Regions from separate parts of the Homo sapiens genome. Here region 1 is linked to region 2. The links come from fine-mapping of genetic effects on gene expression. Tissue or cell type: transverse colon. Region 2 holds a variant in brackets; the other region holds the start of a gene. All regions are shown on one strand. Distances are between the middles of the regions.

What was found. PIP is the estimated chance that this variant, and not a neighbour inherited with it, causes the effect.
Region 1: ZNF197 starts here. The variant in region 2 is fine-mapped to the expression of ZNF197 in transverse colon (GTEx, PIP above 0.99).

Annotation. Positions count from the first base shown.
Region 1 is chr3:44,621,097-44,629,192 of GRCh38, reverse strand. ZNF197 (zinc finger protein 197) reads right to left here and starts at 4,157. Exons shown (of 6, transcript NM_006991.5): 1 at 4,050-4,157; 2 at 1-119. The coding sequence starts at 38. ZNF660-ZNF197 (ZNF660-ZNF197 readthrough) reads right to left here. Exons shown (of 8, transcript NR_147692.2): 3 at 1-119. All of the region lies in intron 2 of ZKSCAN7-AS1 (ZKSCAN7 ZNF cluster antisense RNA 1), which reads left to right. It overlaps ZNF197-AS1 (ZNF197 antisense RNA 1), which reads left to right and starts at 4,396. Exons shown (of 2, transcript NR_046658.1): 1 at 4,396-4,471. RefSeq lists an enhancer at 3,322-3,824 and a silencer at 3,804-4,153.
Region 2 is chr3:44,816,979-44,825,082 of GRCh38, reverse strand. All of the region lies in intron 20 of KIF15 (kinesin family member 15), which reads right to left. Among named protein-coding and RNA genes, the nearest start is that of MIR564, 41 kb to the left of the region's middle. The variant G/A (reference allele first, on the strand shown) is at 3,977.

The DNA of each region.
Region 1 (8,096 bases), 200 kb after region 2:
TGTCTCAGAGCATTGTGGGCTACATTTTCTCTTGTCATTGTTGTTTTTTGAAAAAGGCTCCTCTCCAGTCCAGGTCTCCTTAATCCTTGACTTCTTCCTTACAGCTTGGAGAGTATCATCTACAAGACCTCAAGAAATCATTGTTAAAGTTAGCCCAGAGAAACAACTGAGCTTTCCAGGCCCCAGTCAGCTCCCAGTCAGCTCCCAGTAATAAAGAGAACCTTTGTGAGTGCAAGGTTCCAGGCTCTAGAGAGTGCTTCCTCTGACAGAAACCCCCTGCCTAAGGCTCTGGGATACAAACACTCATGTTACGCACGAGACTGCTGAAACCAAACACATGAACTTCCTTTGGTCTTTGTTCATAGGATCCCTTCAGCTAATTACAATAGACTCTTTACCACTCTAACAATGAGCATCCTGACTACTCCTGTGTAACCTGGAACAAGTACCTCACTTCTGAGCCTTAGTTTCTTAACCTGTAAAATAGGGATAGTAACAGTTCCTACCTTATGGGGTTGTCATGAGAATTTGATGTATAATACATTTCAAGTTTTTGAACAGTGCCTGGTATACGGGTTTAAATGTTACTTATTACCCTTCTGTAACTAGTACTCTTTCCTATGTTCCGCAGAGTTAACAAGTAATCATTAATCATGATACATATGAGAGAAAATCCTAACCACCTCCTCAATTAACAAAGAAAGGATGAATTAAGTTCTGTGTAGTTTTGCTCTACATGCCTTTAATTCTCTGAAAATTGTTCTTTCTGTTAATCAAAATATTTGGATAAATTTGCCTTTTCTTCTTTTCCTTTCACATCTAGTCCCACAGATGGATAAATATGAATAGAGTTTTATTATACAGAACTTAGACTTGCTCTCTAGAAATCATCTGCTCTTTAGAAATAACATTTTTCTAATTATAAAACCAGAAAACACACAAAACCAGAAAACAATCACTGCTATTATTCTGAACTATGTCCTTACCATAGTTTAATTATCATAGATAAATTCTAACTTTCCCCTATTATTAATAAGGTCACAACGGCTATCCTTGATAACAAATTTTTAGTTACATCTCTGCTTATTTCTTCAGGATAAACTCCTAGGAGAAAATTGTTGGGCTGAAGGATAAAAACATTTTTAAGCTTTTAAGGTTATAACAGTTATATCACCATCAGTGACATATGAAAACATCCTCTTTATTTGAACACACAGACCCTTAAAGAGAGCTTGCTTATAACAAACAGGGGAGCCAGAAATATAAACATAATTTCAATATAATGTTTAAGTACAAGTAATAGGAGAACATAAAACTACAGAAAGGATTCATGAAAGGAAATTTCTTTTTTTTTTTTTTTTTGAGATGGAGTCTCGCTCTGTCACCCAGGCTGGAGTGCAGTGGCATGATCTCGGCTCAGCGCAACCTCTGCTTGACAGGTTCAAGCAATTTTCCTGTCTCAGCTTTCCAGGCAGCTGGTACTACAGGCTCGCACCACCATGCCCAGGTAATTTTTGTATTTTTGGTAGAGACGGGGTTTCGCAATGTTGGCCAGGATGGTCTCAATCTCTTGACCTCGTGATCTGCCTGCCTTGGACTCCCAAAGTGCTGAGATTACAGGCATGAGCCACCATACCCAGCCATGAAAGGTACTTTTGGATTGGGCTTTTAAGGAAAAATAAAAGGATCATTGGACTATGAGGAAAGCCATTCCAGGAAGAAAGAAACTCTATTTTCAAAAGCAAGGAAGGACACATAACTCTGTGAAGGAAGACCAGAGAAGGAAAGTAAACTTCAGAGGCAAGAGTGTAGGAGTAGAGCAGAGAGGTGAACAGAAGTTAAATTCTAACTACTGCTCTTGAGAGGCAGTATTCTGAGGAGATGATCCTGTCCTGTAAGTGAAGTGATTTTACTTACATTTCAGCATTAAAGAGGCTTTACTTTACATTTTTCCTTATTTTTAAAAATAGTAATATATTCACTTGGTTCAAAATTTAAAATTATAAAATGTATACTGTGTAAAGTTTCCTTCTCCGTTAGCTTCTTATCTATCTTTCCAGTTATTTCTGCATATGTGTGTACATATATTGTTTTCTAGTTCCCTTTTTTTCACAAATGGTAGGACACCATGAATGACGTGGTACATTTTCCTCTTCTCAATAATATGTCTTAGAGATCTTTCCTGTCAATACACAGCCCCTCTCCGCATTTTTATGGATGCATAGATGTATCATAATTTATTCATGCCAGCACTGATGGAATGTTTGGGTAGTTTTCAATCATTTCTTATTACCAACAATATAATCATGAATAATCTTGGGCATACATCAGTTTGGATGTGTGTAGGCATATATAAGAAAAATTCCTTGAATCAGAATTGCTGAGTTAAAAGGTATATACATGTATAATTTTGATATTGCCAATTTGACCTCACTAGGATTGAACCAATTTATAATTTATACTCCCATCAGAAACAGCTGTATGGGAGTGCCTTTCCTCACTTTCACCAATATGTTTCTCAAAGTTTGTGCTCTTCGCCAAATTTTTGACTTGCATTTTGAACGAATTAATATAGAGTCATTTGTATATTTTTTAAAGTAACTATTCATATATTTTGCCCATGTTTCCATTGAGGTGTTGGGTCTTGTTAATTTGTACACACTTTTATCACAGGAAAATTAGTCCTTTGTTTACAATGGCAGCTGCAAATTTTTCTCAGTTTGTCAAGTGTCTTTGTGACTATATATGCCATGTGACTTTGCTTAAAGTGTTTTTTGCCATGCAGTCAATCTTTTACGACTTCTGGGTACTGTACCACAATTAGAAAGACCTTTTTCACTCTGAGCATGAAGAGAGTCTTAAGTGGTGTCAGGACTCTATTAGTGAGAAATGGTGGGGGTGGGAGGGCTGGATATCAAGAAAGGTCAGTTAGGTTTTTCTAATAGTCTAAACACATGACTTAAGTTCTAAACGAAGTAGGGATAAGGCAATTGAGAAAAACTTGGTAGTCCTTGGTAACTGATCTGGGGGTGATGGAAAGGAATTTTTAAAAAGAATTTTGAATAATTTTCAAATAACATAAAAATAACAAATTCTTAAACATACATTTTATTAGCTTCTCACAAAAGGTTTTCAAAGCAGAAGTTAAAAAAAACAAAAGGATCAGAGGAGCGAATCCACTCAAGGCCACTTAGCTAACTGAGACATGGGAGCAAATTCTGAATTCAGGGATTCTAATTCCAGAAGTCCAAAACAATTCCATCTACGAAGAAACTTATGAAACCCAAACAACCCAAACTGTTCTAAAACAACAGTTTCCAAACACCAGTCCACGACAAAGCTTTAATCTGGTAAGCTGCAAAAAGAGAAAACCAGTAACAATCGTCGCTGACAGGTTGGCAATGAGTGTGTGTGTGTGTGTGTGTGTGTGTGTGTGTGTGTGCGCGCGCGCGCGCAAAGGCCAGCATTTATTCTGAGTTTACGGTCTTAGTACTTTGTGTTAAAATGTATTGCCTGAAGTAATGTTGGTATGGGTGGTTTCAAGTTTGAGTTTTTCAAGTTTGATTTTTAAATACCATTATATTACAAAACTAAAAGACTAAAAAAGCTAAAATCGTTCCACCCCTTAAAACAAACAAACAAAAAAATCCGTCCTCAAGAGTCTGGGCGCCACCGGTAATAGGGAAACCTCAGAATGTTTCTGTGGATTAGCCTCAGACAAGACTGAGGAAGAGCAGAAAGGCCTGAGCTGGGGGAGCAGGCTACTGAGGCAGCTCTTCTCAAAGCGCCAGCAGAGTCCGTTAGACAGGAGCACCGGTCCACAAACACACACAGACTCGGAGCTGCTGTCCTCAGTACTTCCCTCGGGCCGGCTGCCTGCCCAGCCGAGGCCACGACGTCGAACCCCAACACGAAGCTGGCGACGGACCATGCCGGGGGTCAGGGCCCGGGAGAGGCTACCGAGGGCTGTGCAGTCCCAGCAAGCTCAGGCCCGCGTCCCGGGCCGCCTTCCCTGCACGCCCACCCGCCCCCGAGCCCACCCCGCTCACCGGGGGCTCCCGCTGCGGCTCCAGCCTTGCGTACCGCCGCCTCGGCGCCAGGCCGCTAGGAGATGACACAGGAACGAGCCCTTCCGGCAGCCGAGGCACAGAATAATGGCCGAGCCGAGAATACTGCGACTTCCGGTTGCACCCCGCCCCTCATCCCGGATCTCTAGGAAGCCACATCTCTATGGTTCGTTTCTTTTCCCAGAACTGGGGAAGAGAGGCGGAACTCCTGAGCCCTTGGGTACTAGTGTTCCTTACATCGAACAAGAACTGGCCGCTGTTTCAGACCGGAAGGGTGCAGAGATGAAAGACAGGACCCAGGGTCTCAGGATGCCTGTTGCCTCCTAAGAGAGTTGGACATTTCTATTTTGATTTGCATTTCAATTGAGGTTGATAGGGAGTGACCTTCACGTCTGAATGACCTGGTAGGTGACTTTTCTGGTCTCTTCTTGAACTTATGCAATTCTCACTATAAATAATAACATGACTTATAAATCACCCTCTTGTGAATTCGCTTACTGTGGTGTATCTCTTGCCCACATGATGACATATTGGAGCTATGATATTAAATAATAATCAAGTTGATGGTGCAAGGTAATGTGCAAATGGTAGGGACATCTCTCCCCTGAAAGAAGAGGTTATTCTAGCTGTCCATCGCCCTGGGTAAAGTCAGGTGTATATAAAGGAAACTGGCACTCTGATCCTCTCTTTGGTCTTCAGTCTCTTAAGTTTGGACTTCTGGAACTGACACCCCTATATGGGACTATGGCTGAAACAAGTCTCCAAAAGGGCAAAGGCCATGTCTGCATGGATCCCATGTATTTAGCACCTAGTACAAAGCTGAAGCCATATAGGTTGTAGATGAATGTTTATTCAATGAGCAAGGTTCATGTTATTCTGTTTATGTCTTTTTTTTTTTTTTGAGATGGAGTTTTGCTCTTGTTGCCCAGGCTGGAGTGCAGTGGCGCAATCTTGGCTCACTGCAATCTCCACCTCCCGGGTTCAAGCGATTCTTCTGCCTCAGCCTCCTGAGCAGCTGGGATTACAGGCACGTGCCACCATGCCTGGCTATTTTTTTTTTTTTTTTTTTTTTTTAGTAGAGACGGGGTTTCACAATGTTGGCCAGGCTGGTCTTGAACTCCTGACCTCAGGTGATCCACCCCCACCTTGGCCTTCTAAAGTGTTGGAATCACAGGCGTGAGCCACCGTGCCAGGCTTATTCTGTTTATTTCTTTATGTTCTCTCCTGGCATTCATTAAACAACATACTTAAACTTCAGCCTTGATTCATTCATTCATTCAACTACTGAGTACTTGCCATATGCCAAATACTGTTCTGGGCACTAGGGACATAGATAAAGAGGTAAAGTCTCTGTTCTCATGGGGCTTACATTTCTAGTGGGATAAACAGAAAACAAATATAAAAATGTGTCAGGTGGTGGTAAATGCTAAGAAATGTGAAAGCTGATCATAAGAATTGGGTCATTTTTGTCATACCTAATAAAAGAAAGTCGAGAAATTAGCTGGGGGAAGCACTCAGGGTACACAACATTGCTCCAGGAATGTTATTCTCTGTAAGCTTGACTGCTGAAACTGCTTATTATAAGCCAAAACCAGTTTTATCTATAGCTTCTGAGATAAGTTGCTGCAACTCTAGGACTAATTTTGCCCACCGCAGTTGCTCACCAACTGGAGCTTGTCAGCTCCCCACACCCTTACTACTGCCAATGAACTTTCTCAAAGAGCAATATGTAACATTCCTCCTTTTTGTAAAACCTCTAACCTTCTCTTTGTTCTTCAGAGAGAGCACCACTTTCAGTTCAAGCCAGAGACTATCTCTCCGAGTTTGTAAACTGATGTTGTGAATAAAACTTTCTTTTCTTTCTTTCTTTCTTTTTTTTTTTTTTTTTTTTGAGATGGAGTCTCACTCTGTCGCCCAGGCTGGAGTGCAGTGGCGCGATCTCGCTCACTGCAACCTCCGCCTCCCGGGTTCAAATGATTCTCCTGTCTCAGATTCCTGAGTAGCTGGGATTACAAGCGCACGCCACCATGCCTGGCTAATTTTTTGTATTTTAGTAGAGATGGGGTTTCACCGTGTTGCCCAGGCTGGTCTCAAACTCCTGAGCTCAGGCAATCCACCCGCCTCGGCCTTCCAAAGTGCTAGGATTACAGGTGTGAGCCACTGTGCCGGCCAACTTTCTTTTCTACTATCTAGCCATCCTGGTGGTCCTTTGGATGACATAAAAAAGGGTAAGGAGGACCCAACAAAGGAGACTGAGAAGCAGCAGCCAATCAAGTAGGAAGAGAAGAAGGAAATAGTACTTTATGGGTCTCAAAGTATGAATGAGTAGATTTTGAAATATTGATCAATGTGATTGCTGTTCCCCCCACACTAAATTATAATTTTACTTGTAAACCAAGGCTCCCTTCTCCTCCCCTGCCCTACCTAGGTAGACAGGAGTTACACACTATGGGACTGGAAACAAAAGTGACAAAAACGATAGTGAGTTAGGCCATTAGAAGCCTTTAGTAAGGTGAAAAACATTCTTGCCTTGCTGGGAAAGAAGAAAGGAATGGGAGGAGCCAAAATGACCAACTAGACTATGGACCACTGACCAGTGAGCCTGTAATCATTCACACTCCTACTAAGCAATGGCCCGGAAGCATGTAACCAAAGAGTTGTCAGCTGGTAAGAACCACCAGTTGCCAGTGGCCAGCCCAGAGCCTCAGTTTTGTCACTCAGTTTGTGCCCTGAGATTCTGCCCATCTGACAAAGAACTTGAAGCACCCTCACCACTGTCCCAAGATGAAAGACTTGGTAACCTTGTGGAATGATGGTGATAGGAAAGGAACACCCTATCTTTGACCAAGGTGGAACTATACAAAACCTGTTTAAAGTGGGCCAGAGCTCTGGGACAGTGGTATAATACAACACATAGCCTTTGTTTTACATACACACACATTCCTGGTATTTAAAATCCCCAAATGTACTGGTGAAAAAAACTAAGCAAACAAGAAATAAATGAGTTTGAGATAGGCATATGAGAAGAGGCTGGAAGCACAGGACTGACATTTCAAGATGGGTTAAGATCTTAGACTACTGATCAACTAAAATGGAAATCCCGGTCTGAATGGAAAGTTTGTATTTCTCATCTTTCTATAAAACCCCACTTTGCCAGAGTTGTTTTTAATGCAAATTGGAATGTGATTGACCTATGACCAAGGATTATATGTATATAATATATATGGCTAAGAAATCTCAAGACATGCAATCTGAAGACCCAGGAGAGCTGAAGGTATAGTTGTAGTCCAAGATCTATAGGCCTAAGAAGCAGAAAAGCTGCTGGTGTAACTTCCAGTCTGAGTCCTAGTCGGAATCCAAATGTGTTAGTCTGTTCTCGCACTGCTATAAAGAAATGCCTGAGATTGGGAACTTTATAAAGAAAAGAGGTTTAATTGGCTCACAGTTCTGCAGGCTGTACAGGAATCATGGTACCATCTGCCTCTGGGGAGGCCTCAGGGAACTCATGGGGGAAGGCAAAGTGGGAGCAGATGTCTTATGTGGCAGCAGAAGGACCAAGGGTCGGGGGAGGAGGGAGGTGCTACACACTTTTAAACAACCAGGTCTCACTCACTATCTCAACACAGAGCCAAGGGGTAAAGCCATCCCTATGATCCAATCACCTCCCATCAGGCCCCACCTCCAACATTGGGAATTACAGTTTGACATGAGATTTGGGCGGGGACAGAAATCTAAACCATATCACCAAAGGTGGGAGAAGACCAATGTCCCAGCCAGAAGACAGGCAGAAAGAGCAAATTCTCTCTCAGTCTTTTCCTTCTACTCACATCTCCAATGGCTTGGATGAGGCTCACTCATGTTAAGGAGGGCAATCAGTCTACAGATTCAGATGTTAATCTCATCCAGAGATACCCCCACAGACACTCAGAATAATGTTTAGCCAAATGTCTGGGCACACTATGGCCCATTCAAGTTAACATGTAAAATGAACTATCACATATGGATTCTTCCAAATACAGTTCAGGGCAT
Region 2 (8,104 bases):
GTGTATTTAAAAAGCTAGGAAGAGGCTGGGCACAGTGGCTCATGCCTCTAATCCCAGCACTTTGGGAAGCTGAGGTGGGTGGACTGCTTGAGCTCAGGGGTTTGAAAACAGCCTGGACAACATGGCGAAACTCTGTCTCTACAAAAAATACAAAAATTAGCTGGGTGCACTGGCATGTGCCTGTAGTCCCAGCTATGTGGGGAGCTGAGGTGGGAGGACAGCTTGAGCCCGGGATATTGAGGCTGCAGTAAGCCGTGTTTATGCCACTGTGCTCCAGCCTGGGTGACAAAGTGAGACACTGTCTCAAAAACAAACAAACAAACAAACCTAGGAAGTATTTAATGATGAAAATAGAATTTAAGTATGTAGCAAAATATAGTGGATTCTTAACATTTTTTGATGTAGTTCAACTCTGACATATAAACATTAGGAAATTAAGATCCCATGAGATTAGTGACTTCAAAACAAATTACACAAAATAGTTTGAGTTGAGGCCAAGATTATTAGATCCAGTGATTCAGAAGTTAAAACAAATGCTAAGGGTAAGAGAAGGCAACAGTGCACCTGTGATAAGTTATCAATAAATTACCTATTTTGTTTAACTAATTTGAGTTGGGTTATACCACTGCACTTCAAGTAGATTACAGGCCAATCAGACAACTAGATAAGTGGACTTGGTGCTGGGGAAATGGGACAGGGTGGTGGAGGCTGTGCTGACCCAGACAGCACATTCTGTCTCTAAAGAGAAAGGGGTGAATTTTGCAGCAACTGATGGCTGCCATGCAGGGATGTGGGCCTAGTGGTACCAAATAGTATGACTTTGCTAGAGAATGCTGAAATATAGATTTTTATAATAAAACACTCAATTTTTAAAATGCTATGTTCATTTATTTTTCTTTAGCCACTGGGCAGGCCTAAGAAAAATGTATGTGAATTAGGCAAGATGGCCAAACAGGAAGAGCTGCAGTCTGCAGCTCCCAGCGGGATCGATGCAGAAGATGGGTGATTTTTACATTTCCAACTGAGGTACCTGGTTCATCTCACTGGGACTGGTTGGACAGTGGGTGCAGACCACGGAGGGCAAGCTGAAGCAGGGTGGGCGTCGCCTCACCCAGGAAGCGCAAGGGGTCGGGGAATTTCCCTTTCCTAGCCAAGGGAAGCCATGACAGACTGTACCTGGAAAAATGGGACACTTCTGCCATAATACTGAGCTTTTCCAATGGTCTTATCAAATGGCATACCAGAAGATTATATCCCGCACCTAGCTCGGTGGGTCCCACGCCCACGGAGCCTCACTCACTGCTAGCACAGCAGTCTGAGATCGACCTGTGAGGCAGCAGCCTGGCAGGGGGAGGGCCATCCGCCATTGCTGAGGCTTGAGTAGGTAAACAAAGCGGCCTGGAAGCTTGAACTGGGTGGAGCCCACCACAGCTCAGCAAGGCCGGCTGCCTCTATAGATTCCACCTGTGGGGGCAGAGCATAGCTGAGCAAAAGGCAGCAGAAACCTCTGCAGACTTAAACATCCCTGTCTGATAGCTCTGAAGAGTACAGTGGTTCTCCCAACACGGTGTTTGAGCACTGAGAATGGACAGACTGCCTCCTCAAGTGGGTCCCTGACCTCTGTGTAGCCTAACTGGGATAAACCTCCCAGTAGGGGCCGACTGACACCTCATACAGGTGGGTGCCCCTCTGGGACGAAGCTTCCAGAGGAAGGATCAGGCAGCAATATTTGCTGTTCTGCAGCCTCCGCTGGTGATACCCAGGCAAACAGGGTCTGGAGTGAGCCTCCAGCAAACACCAACAGAGCTGCAGCTGAGGGACCTGACTGTTAGAAGGAAAACTAACAAACAGAAAGGAATAGCATCAACACCAACAAAAAGGGCATCCATACCAAAACCCCATCTGTCAGTCACCAATATCAAAGACCAAAGGTAGATAAAACCACAAAAATGGGGAGAAACCACAGGAGAAAAGCTGAAAATTCTAAAAACCAGAGCGCCTCTTCTCCTCCAAAGGATTGTAGCTCCTCACCAGCAATAGAACAAAGCTGGACGAGAATAACTTTGACGAGTTGACAGAAGTAGGCTTCAGAAGGTCGGTAATAACAAACTTCGACAAGCTAAAGGACCATGTTCAAACCCAATGCAAGGAAGCTAAAAACCTTGAAAAAAGATTAGACGAATGGCTAACTAGAATAAACAGTGTAGAGAAGACCTTAAATGAACTGATGGGGCTGAAAACCAGAGCATGAGAACTTCATGACACCTGCACAAGGCTTCAACAGTCGATTCGATCAAGTGGAAGAAAGGGTATCACTGAGTGAAGATCAAATCAATGAAATAAAGCGAGAAGAGAAGTTTAGAGAAAAAAGAGTAAAAAGAAATGAACAAAGCCTCCAAGAAACATGGGACTATGTGAAAAGACCAAATCTACATTTGATTGGTGTACCTGAAAGTGATGGGGATAATGGAACCAAGTTGGAAAACACTCTTCAGGATATTATCCAGGAGAACTTCCCCAACCTAGCAAGGCAGGCCAACATTCAAATTCAGGAAAAACAGAGAATACCACAAATATACTCCTCGAGAAGAGCAACCCCAAGACACATAATTGTCAGATTCACCAAGGTTGAAATGAAGGAAAAAATGTTAAGGGCAGCCAGAGTGAAAGGTCGGGTTACCCACAAAGGGAAGCCCATCAGACTAACAGCGGATCTCTCAGCAGAAACTCTACAAGCCAGAAGAGAGTGGGGGGCAATATTCAACATTCTTAAATAAAGAATTTTCAACCCAGAATTTCATATCCAGCCAAACTAAGATTCATAAGTGAAGGAGAAATAAAATCCTTTACAGACAAGCAAATGCTGAGAGATTTTGTCACCATCAGGCCTGACTTACAAGAGCTCCTAAAGAAAGCACTAAAAATGGAAAGGAACAACCAGTACCAGCCACTGCAAAAACATGCCAAATTGTAAAGACCATCGACGCTAGGAAGAAACTGCATCGGTACTGCTGACATCTCAGCTCACTGCAACCTCCCTGCCTGATTCTCCTGCCTCAGCTTGCCGAGTGCCTGCAATTGCAGGCACGCACCGCCACGCCTGACTGGTTTTCGTATTTTTTTGGTGGAGACGGGGTTTCGCTGTGTTGGCCGGGCTGGTCTCCAGCTCCTAACCGCGAGTGATCCGCCAGCCTCGGCCTCCCGAGGTGCCGGGATTGCAGACGGAGTCTGGTTCACTCAATGCTCAATGTTGCCCAGGCTGGAGTGCAGTGGCGTGATCTCAGCTCGCTACAACCTCCACCTCCCAGCCGCCTGCCTTGGCCTCCCAAAGTGCCGAGACTGCAGCCTCTGCCCAGCCGCCACCCTGTCTGGGAAGTGAGGAGCGTCTCTGCCTGGCCGCCCATCATCTGGGACGTGAGGAGCCCCTCTGCCTGGCTGCCCAGTCTGGAAAGTGAGGAGCGCCTCTTCCCAGCCGCCATCCCATCTAGGAAGTGAGGAGCGCCTCTTCCCGGCCGCCATCCCATCTAGGAAGTGAGGAGCGTCTCTGCCCGGCCACTCATCGTCTGAGATGTGGGGAGCGCCTCTGCCCCGCCGCCCCGTCTGGGATGTGAGGAGTGCCTCTACCCGGCCGCAACCCCGTCTGGGAGGAGAGGAGCGTCTCTGCCCGACCGCCCCGTCTGAGAAGTGAGGAGCCCCTCCGCCCGGAAGCCGCCCCGTCTGAGAAGTGAGGAGCGTCACCGCCCCGCAGCCACCCCGTCCAGGAAGGAGGTGGGGGTCACCCACCGCCAGGCCAGCCGCCCCGTCCAGGAGGGAGGTGGGGGGGTCAGCCCTCCGCCCGGCCAGCCGCCCCGTCCGGGAGGTGAGGGGCGCCTCTGCCCAGCCGCCCCTACTGGGAAGTGAGGAGCCCCTCTGCCCGGCCAGCTGCCCCGTCCGGGAGGGAGGTGGGGGGGTCAGCCCCCCGCCCGGCCAGCCGCCC[G/A]GTCCGGGAGGGAGGTGGGGGGGGTCAGCCCGCCACCCGGCCTGCCGCCCCATCCGGGAGGGAGGTGGGGGGGTCAGCCCCCCCGCCCGGCCAGCCGCCCCGTCCGGGAGGGAGGTGGGGGGGTCAGCCCCCTGCCCGGCCAGCCACCCCGTCCGGGAGGTGAGGGGCGCCTCTGCCCGGCCGCCCCTACTGGGAGGTGAGGAGCCCCTCTGCCCGGCCACCACCCCGTCTGGGAGGTGTGCCCGGCAGCTCATTGAGAACGGGCCATGATGACAATGGCGGTTTTGTGGAGTAGAAAGTGGGGAGAGGTGGGGAAAAGAGTGAGAAATCGGATGGTTGCCGTGTTTGTGTAGTAGGAGGTAGACATGGGAGACTTTTCATTTTGTTCTGTACTAAGAAAAATTCTTCTGCCTTGGGATCTTGTTGATCTGTGACCTTACCCCCAACCCTGTGCTCTCTGAAACATGTGCTGTGTCCACTCAGGGTTAAATGGATTAAGGGCGGTGCAAGATGTGCTTTGTTAAACAGATGCTTGAAGGCAGCATGCTCGTTAAGAGTCATCACCACTCCCTAATCTCAAGTACCCAGGGACACAAACACTGCGGAAGGCCGCAGGGTCCTCCGCCTAGGAAAACCAGAGACCTTTGTTCACTTGTTTATCTGCTGACCTTCCCTCCACTATTGTCCTGTGACCCTGCCAAATCCCCCTCTGTGAGAAACACCCAAGAATGATCAATAAAAAATAAATAAAAGTTTAAAAAAAAAAAAGGAAAAAAAAAAGAAACTGCATCAACTAACGAGCAAAATAACCAGCTAACATCATAATGACAGGATCAAATTCACACATAACAATATTAACCTTAAATGTAAATGGGCTAAATGCCCCAATTAAAAGACACCAACTGGCAAATTGGATAGTCAAGACCCATTGGTGTGCTGTATTCAGGAGACCCATCTTACGTGCAGAGACACACATAGGTTCAAAATAAAGGGATGGAGGAAGATCTACCAAGCAAATGGAAAGCAAAAAAAACCAGCGATTGCAATCCTAGTCTCTGATAAAACAGACTTTAAACCAACAAAGATCAAAAGAGACAAAGAAGGCCATTACATAATGATAAAGGGATCAATTCAACAAAAAGAGCTAACTATCCTAAATATATATGCACCCAATACAGGAGCACCCAGATTCATAAAGCAAGTCCTGAGTGACCTACAAAGAGACTTAGACTCCCACACAATAATAATGGGAGACTTTAACACCCCACTGTCAATATTAGACAGATGAATGAGACAGAAGGTTAACAAGGGTATCCAGGACTTGAACTCAGCTCTGGACCAAGCGGACCTAATAGACATCTACAGAACTCTCCACCCCAAATCAACAGAATATACATTCTTCTCAGCACCACATCGCACTTATTCCAAAATTGACCACATAGTTAAAAGTAAAGCACTCCTCAGCAAATGTAAAAAAAACAGAAATCACAACAAACTGTCTCTTAGACCACAGTGCAATAAATTAGATCTCAGGATTAAGAGACTCACTCAAAACTGCACCACTACATGGAAACTGAACAACTTGCTCCTGAATGACTACTGGGTAAATAACGAAATGAAGGCAGAAATAAAGATGTTCTTTGAAATCAATGAGAACAAAGATACAATGTACCAGAATCTCTGGGACACATTCAAAGCAGTGTGTAGAGGGAAATTCATAGCACTAAATGCCCACAGGAGAAAGCAGGAAAGATCTAAAATCGACACCCTAACATCACAATTAAAAGAACTAGAGAAGCAAGAGCAAACAAATTCAAAAGCTAGCAGAAGGCAGGAAATAACTAAGATCAGAGCAGAACTGAAGGAGATAGAGACATAAAAAACCCTTCAGAAAATTAATGAATCCAGGAGCTGGTTTTTTGAAAAGATCAACAAAATTGATAAGACTGCTAGCAAGACTAATAAAGAAGAAAAGAGAGAAGAATCAAATAGATGCAATAAAAAATGATAAAGGGGATATCACCACCTATCCCACAGAAATACAAACTACCATCAGAGAATACTATAAACACCTCTACGCAAATAAACTAGAAAATCTAGAAGAAATGGATGAATTCCTGGACACATACACCCTCCCAAGACTAAACCAGGAAGAAGCTGAATCTCTGAATACACCAATAACAGGCTCTGAAATTGAGGCCATAATTAATAGCCTAGCAACCAAAAAAAGTCTAGGACCAGACGGATTCACAGCCAAATTCTATCAGAGGTACAAAGAGGAGCTGGTACCATCCCTTCTGAAACTATTCCAATCAATAGAAAAAGAGGGAATACTCCCTAACTCATTTTATGAGGCCAGCATCATCCTGATACCAAAGCCTGGCAGAGACACAACAAAAAAAGAGAATTTTAGATCAATATTTCTGATGAACATCGATGCAAAAATCCTCAATAAAATACTGGCAAAGTGAATCCAGCAGCACATCAAAAAGCTTATCCACCACAATAAAGTCGGCTGTATCTATGGCATGCAAGGCTGCTTCAACATACGCAAATCAATAAATGCAATCCATCACATAAACAGAACCAATGACAAAAACCACATGATTATCTCAATAGATGCAGAAAAGGCCTTCGACAAAATTCAACAGCACTTCATGCTAAAAACTCTCAATAAACTAGATATTGATGGAACGTATCTCAAAATAATAAGAGCTATTTATGACAAACCCACAGCCAATATCATACTGAATGGACAAAAACTGGAAGCATTCCCTTTGAAAACTGGCACAAGACAGGGATGCCCTCTCTTACCACTCCTCTTCAATATAGTGTTGGAAGTTCTGGCCAGGGCAATCAGGCAAGAGAAAGAAATAAAGTGTATTCAATTAGGAAAAGGGGAAGTCAAATTGTCCCTGTTTGCAGATGACATGATTGTATATTTAGAAAACCCCATCATCTCAGCCCAAAATCTCCTTAAGCTGATAAGCAACTTCAGCAAAGTCTCAGGATAGAAAATCAATGTGCAAAAATCACAAGCATTCCTATGTACCAATAACAGACAAACGGAGAGCCAAATTATGAGTGAACTCCCATTCACAGCTGCTACAAAGAGAATAAAATACCTAGGAATCCAACTTACAAGGGATGTGAAGGACCTCTTCAAGGAGAACTACAAACCACTGCTCAACGAAATAAAAGAGGACACAAACAAATGGAAGAACATTCCATGCTCATGGGTAGGAAGAATCAATATTGTGAAAATGGCCATACTGCCCAAGATAATTTTATAGATTCAATGCCATCCCCATCAAGCTATCAATGACTTTCTTCACAGAATTGGAAAAAACTACTTTAAAGTTCATATGTAACCAAAAAAGAGCCCGCATTGCCAAGACAATCCTAAGCCAAAAGAACAAAGTTGGAGGCATCACGCTACCTGACTTCAAACTATACTACAAGGCTACAGTAACCAAAACAGCATGGTACTGGTACCAAAACAGAGATATAGACCAACGGAACAGAACATAGGTCTCAGAAATAATACCACACATCTACAACCATCTGATCTTTGACAAACCTGAGAAAAACAAGAAATGGGGAAAGGGTTTCCTGTTTAATAAATGGTGCTGGGAAAACTGGCTAGCCATATGTAGAAAGCTGAAACTGGATCCCTTCCTTACACTTTATACAAAAATTAATTCAAGATGGATTAAAGACTTAAATGTTGGACCTAAAACCATAAAAACCCTAGAAGAAAACCTAGGCAATACCATTCAAGACATACGCATGGGCAAAGACTTCATGAGTAAAACACCAAAAGCAATGGCAACAAAAGACAAAATAGACAAATGGGATCTAATTAAACTAAAGAGCCTCTGCACAGCAAAAGAAATGACCATCAGAGTGAACAGGCAACCTACAGAATGGGAGAAAATTTTTGCAATCTACCCATCTGACAAAGGGCTAATATCCAGAATCTACAAAGAACTTAAACAAATTTACAAGAAAAAAACAAACAACCTCATCAAAAAGTGGGCAAAGGATATGAACAGACACTTCTCAAAAAAAAAACATTTATGCAGCCAAGAGACACATGAAAAAAATGCTCATCATCACTGGTCATCA